2 separate regions of the Homo sapiens genome follow, and region 2 is linked to region 1. The links come from fine-mapping of genetic effects on gene expression. Tissue or cell type: aorta. Region 1 holds a variant in brackets; the other region holds the start of a gene. All regions are shown on one strand. Distances are between the middles of the regions.

Region 1 (2,754 bases):
CAAAACCAAAGCTCAAGGCTGGGCAGGGCAGCCAGCTGTGTCCCAACTCACCCCAAGTTTCTGCACTTCATGTCCGAGCAGATGGGCTTTCAGAGGGGACGCTGCCCTAGGGTTTCACAGCCACTTATGCTGAGTGATGCCCAAACCTGTAACTCCCAGTCACTGATCCTAGGATCCTTGAACCACAGGATGCTGACCTCATTTCCCCACCCATTGGTGGATGCGTTCATCAGAGTCTTCCAGAAACCGCGGTGGGGGGATCGCCCAGGATCGCACTCAGGAATCCCGCCGAGGGAGCTCTGTGAATGCAATTTAGGCGACCGCACTTTCTAATGTTTGAAATATTGCGTCTAAGGAGACATTTCTCTAAATGTCACAGGAGACACATGCATGTTTAAGAAATGTACATGAAAGAACATACTTGAGTATATGCCAAGTATGATGACCTAGCTATGATAATTTTCAAAAATGTAGCAATCGTATTGTCAGAAACTATTATTTTAGAGGTTAGAATGTTGACCACCCATTTGTTTTTAAATTATTATTATACTTTAAGTTTTAGGGTACATGTGCACAATGTGCAGGTTTGTTACATATGTATACATGTGCCATGTTGGTGTGCTGCACCCACTAACTCGTCATCTAGCATTACGTATATCTCCTAATGCTATCCCTCCCCCCTCCCCCCACCCCACAACAGTCCCCGGAGTGTGATGTTCCCCTTCCTGTGTCCATGTGTTCTCATTGTTCAATTCCCACCTATGAGTGAGAACATGTGGTGTTTGATTTTCTGTCCTTACGATAGTTTGCTGAGAATGGTGGTTTCCAGCTTCATCCATGTCCCTACAAAGGACATGAACTCATCCTTTTTTATGGCTGCATAGTATTCCATGGTGTATATGTGCCACATTTTCTTAATCCAGTCTATCGTTGTTGGACATTTAGGTTGGTTCCAAGTCTTTGCTATTGTGAATAGTGCCACAATAAACATACGTGTGCATGTGTCTTTATAGCAGCATGATTTATAGTCCTTTGGGTATATACCCAGTAATGGGATGGCTGGGTCAAATGGTATTTCTAGTTCTAGATCCCTGAGGAATC[A/G]CCACACTGACTTCCACAATGGTTGAACTAGTTTACATGGCACCCAACTACTACTCGACATTCGTAACCTTTTATTCATTAGAAATGACCAACGGGAACTTTAAATTACATGACAGCAGTTTCCTTCTTAGAAAGAGGAAGGTAAAACTCAGAGAAACCTATCAAGCCTGAATAAAGGAGTAAACACAAAAATGAAGCAGTTCCAACTCTTCTATGGGGCTCCCTACCTGTGGTCCTTCATCCTCATAATATTATTTTCTGAATGGCCTCTGACAGCCACGATTTCCCCAAATGATCAATGTCGTCAAACTATTCAGCATGGCAGATCAGGAAAATTGTCAGATTTATTTTAGAAAGAATTTTAAAGGACAGGTGGACTCTAAAGGGATGTTGTGCTTAGCTAGATATTCAAAAATGCAATTAACGAACACATTCCTTCTCCAGATACACCGAGTTTTCCTGTGTGTTCAGGTGTTTGTTCCGAGGGTGCGTTAGTGGACGAATTCCTCCACCTGTGCATCTGGAGACCTGGGGATGTCTATGCTCTTTGCCCCCTGCCAGGTAAAAGAGTAAACTTCTAATAATCAGCTCAGATTCCCTTTTGTTGGGTTAGGAGATGAAAATACGTTGTACTGGATTCTCTTTGAAATCTAAAATGTCCGTTGGTTTTGGAGTTTTCTAACAGAACCGCCCTTCAGGTAAACATCCAAAACCTTCCTGTGACCCCGTGCAGAAGCGCCTCCCACAGCCCCCAGAGGAGAGAGGTAACCTCGGCAGATGCTGAGACCAGGGAGCCACCTCTCTTGGGCTGTGCTGGAAGCATCTCTGAGCTCTGCTCAGGTGGGAGTTACTGACACGCATATCCGTGCGAGGGCTGGCGTTTCCTTCTTTCATCAAACTGCCCATCCCCTCTGCAGCCAGTGCAGGAGTCGCGGAGTGCCGCCTTGGCTCTGGCCGCCTGAAGGCCTGCCGTGCTGGAGAGCGGGTCCAGGGGTTGACATCTCTATTCTTTTGTCTGACAAATCTGTGCACTGGCTTGTAAAAAAAATCAATACTGTTTTTCCTTGGTTCTCTCTCCACAGGTGAGCTGGTGGATCGTAGCGGCTCTCCCCGTTCCCGCCTCCAATTCTGTTCTCAGTTTGTTTCTCTTGCTTCAGGGTTGAGCATGTGATCATATCTCCAGCGGACGACACCAAAAGAATGTCTGTGACCTCGTCCCCTGGCGACCACGTCTACAGTGACTGAGTGCTGCCGTGGCTGGAAAGCCAGGGTCTGCATCTCCCAGGACCTCAGGACCTGTGATGAGGTGTTGTGGGGCCAAGAAGAGGAGGGGGTCCATGGTGGGCTCTGCCGCAGGTGACCCTGCGCACTGTCCTAGCACCTGTGCCTAAGGAGATGCCCTCTATGGTACCAAGCATCTCCCAAAATGTGATTTGCTCTTCCTGTGATAGAATGGAGTGGGCTGAGGGGGCGATGGGTGCTGGAAAGCCACAAGGCTGCCATTGATCTGCCAGAGAAGGCACCTGCTCACCTGGCAGGATGCTCACCTGGCAGGATGTTCACCTGGCAGGATGCTCACCTGGCAGGAATAGCAAATTTGCTAGAAAAATGCAGGTTCCCCTGTTCTGGGTGATCTGTGACTTCTGCCACACA
Region 2 (2,500 bases), 660 kb after region 1:
GGCCCGGGCCTGGCCCAGCTCAGTAACCTCGAGACTCGCGAGCCGCCCCCAGGTCGCCGGAGCAGGAGCTGCGCTCGGGCCACGGAGGACTCAGGCGGCCCTTAGCGGGTCACGCGCCCGCAAGCACGATATTTGAAAGCATGGTCCGCTGGACAGAGTAAGGCCGAAACCTGGGCGCCTCGGGCCGGACTCCGGAGCCGCAGCTGAATGCTCGGCTCCTGGGCCTAACTCGGTGACCCCCACCGCCCTGAGCCCCGCGAGTGAATGCGAACCGCCCGGCCGTCGGCTCAGAGGCCGCAGTGACGCGGACCCTCGCGCCCCACGCCAATGCAGGCGAGCACACAGCCCGCTCCGAACGCCTCCCCAGGCTGCGGTGCGGAAACCAGGGACAAACGGCGCCAGACCCCGGCCCCGGCGGAGACGCACTTCCCAGGCTCTCAGAGAAAATCAGCCGGCGAGCCGAGGGGACGCGCGGGGGGCGCGCGGGTCCCGGCCGGGCTCAGGGACGTCCCCGCCTGCCGCGCTGCCCTCCCCACCCGGGGCCCGGCTCAGCCTGCGGGGCGGCCAACCGAGCCGGCGACTCCTGAGTCGCCAGCCGCGCCACATTCCCGGCGGCCCCCGCCCGCCGAACCCGAGCCCCGCTCCGCCTGAGCCCCGTCTGGGTCCCGGCGCCCAGGAGTCCCGCGTCCCGCCCGCGCCCGGTTACCATGTAGGACGGGAAGCCGGCGGCGGCGGCGGCGGCGTCGGCCGAGTACTGCAGCGGGCTCCCGAAGCCGGTGGCCGCCTGCGCCGTGAAGGCCGCCGAGCCCGGGTAGGGGCTGAACGCCGAGCCCGACGCCGAGCGCGCCAGCTCCTCGCTGCGCGGAGCCGCCAAAGCCGACGCGCCGTAGGCCGGGCACGAGTAGAGCGCCAGCGAGCCGGGCGCCTGGTACAGGTAGCCCTGCGGGTAGGACATGGTGGGCGCGGGGCGCGGGGCCCGCGTCACGCCGAGCAGCGGGCAGGGCGCGCGGCGCCCTCCATCCACGCCCGGCCGGGGCGCGGCGCGGCGGCGGGCACCCGGACGGCCGGCGGAGGCAGGCCGGCCCGGGTACTAGCCTGGGCGGCCCGCGGGCCGGGGCGGCGGCGGGGTGGCGGTGGCGGCGGCAGCAGCGCGGAGCCGGTGGGCGCAGCCGCGCGCCAGGCCGGCGGTCGGGGTTTGGGGGAGTCTGGAGTCGGGAGTGAGGAGTTGAGGAAGGAGCGCTCGAGTTTCCGAGGGACATTGGAACGCGCAGCTGTCCATCACGCGCTCATCTGCATATTCGGGGGCCCGCCCCTCCCCTGCTCCGCCCGCTGCAGCCTCCGGGCCGCGGCCGGGGGAGGGGCAGAGAGACGGGAGGGAGGCGGGGGAGGGCGGAGGCGACGGAGGCGGGCGGCGGGAGGGACCGGCAGGCTTTTGTGGCGCAGCCGCCTCTCTAGCAGCTCCGGCCCCAGCCCGCGGCTCGCGGACCTGCAGCCCAGCCCGGCCGCGCTGCGTGCCCCGGCGCGCACCCCTCCCACTCCCATCCACTCGGAGCCACGTCCCCTGCCCGGCTCCGGCCGGCTCCCACCGTCCCCGGCCACCGTCTTCGCCCCTGCCCGGCCCCCGCCCCTTCCAGCCACTACCCCGCCCCCACCCCCTTCTCCACCCTCACGGACTAGGCAGAGGCCGCCCGCGGTCAGGCCAGGCCGGGTCCAATTAGGGGACTCACAGCCTGCCCCGCTGTGCACCCCGAGGAGGCCCGGCCCCTGTGTCCAATCCGGAAGTCGCAGGGAAGTGGGGAGGTCAGGATGGTGGCGCCCGCGGCTCGGGTCTTCCTCCGGGCAGTGCGCGCGGCTCTCACTTCCACGGTCCCGGACCTGCTCTGCCTCCTGGCCCGAGGCTCCCCGCGTGGCCTCGCGTCTGGTCGCCTACCCCTCGCGGTCCACTCCGCCCAGCATGGACCTGGATCCGGGGCGCCTTGGTTGCGAATTGCCAGGAGGGCCCTGAGGTGAGCTTTCTGCCCCCAAATCCGCAGCGCAACCCCCGGGGCCCTGAACGTTACGACTTTCCACTGTTGGGAATGACGCCAGGGCTTCAGCTAAGAAGACGCCGTCCCCTAAAGAGTTTTATTTTATTTTGTTTTTCTAAGTTGACTCCTCTTTCAGATTTGTGTTGTCAAAACACTGGGGGGATGATTGTTACCTGACAAACCGCCTCTGGCAGGACCTGAAGCCTCCCAGTCACGTCGAGAACGGGCAGGAGCTCAGGTTGGCGCCGCCGGTGCAGTGGGCATTACAGGTAGCTCAGGTGACGCGCGGCTGGAGTAGGGGGGCGGTTGCCTTGCGGGGCTCAGAAGCGAGGCGGTTGGCGAGGGTTCCTAGGACCCCAGCTTCCTAGAACCCTCTCCCCATCACGCTTCTCCAACCCTTTTCCACTCGGGGATGGCCGAAGAGGGCGTCTGGCTGCCCACTCCGAAGGGTCACCTATGGGGGGCGCTCAGGG

Direction of the effects. Positions count from the first base shown, and alleles are read on the strand shown. Sizes are in standard deviations (SD) of each study's normalised expression.
For the expression in aorta of the gene that starts at base 1,219 in region 2, allele A in region 1 goes with a lower level than allele G (small effect, 0.29 SD a copy in GTEx).

The links. PIP is the estimated chance that this variant, and not a neighbour inherited with it, causes the effect.
Region 2: IRX2 starts here. The variant in region 1 is the best candidate, but not a certain one, in a credible set for the expression of IRX2 in aorta (GTEx, PIP 0.56).

What each region holds. Positions count from the first base shown.
Region 1 is chr5:2,094,981-2,097,734 of GRCh38, forward strand. LOC105374618 (a long non-coding RNA gene) reads left to right here. Exons shown (of 13, transcript NR_171679.1): 8 at 1,546-1,662; 9 at 2,259-2,754. Among named protein-coding and RNA genes, the nearest start is that of CTD-2194D22.4, 210 kb to the left of the region's middle. The variant A/G (reference allele first, on the strand shown) is at 1,102.
Region 2 is chr5:2,750,459-2,752,958 of GRCh38, forward strand. IRX2 (iroquois homeobox 2) reads right to left here and starts at 1,219. Exons shown (of 4, transcript NM_033267.5): 1 at 707-1,219. The coding sequence starts at 955. IRX2-DT (IRX2 divergent transcript) reads left to right here and starts at 1,435. Exons shown (of 4, transcript NR_122126.2): 1 at 1,435-2,006; 2 at 2,222-2,296. RefSeq lists an enhancer at 1,334-2,258.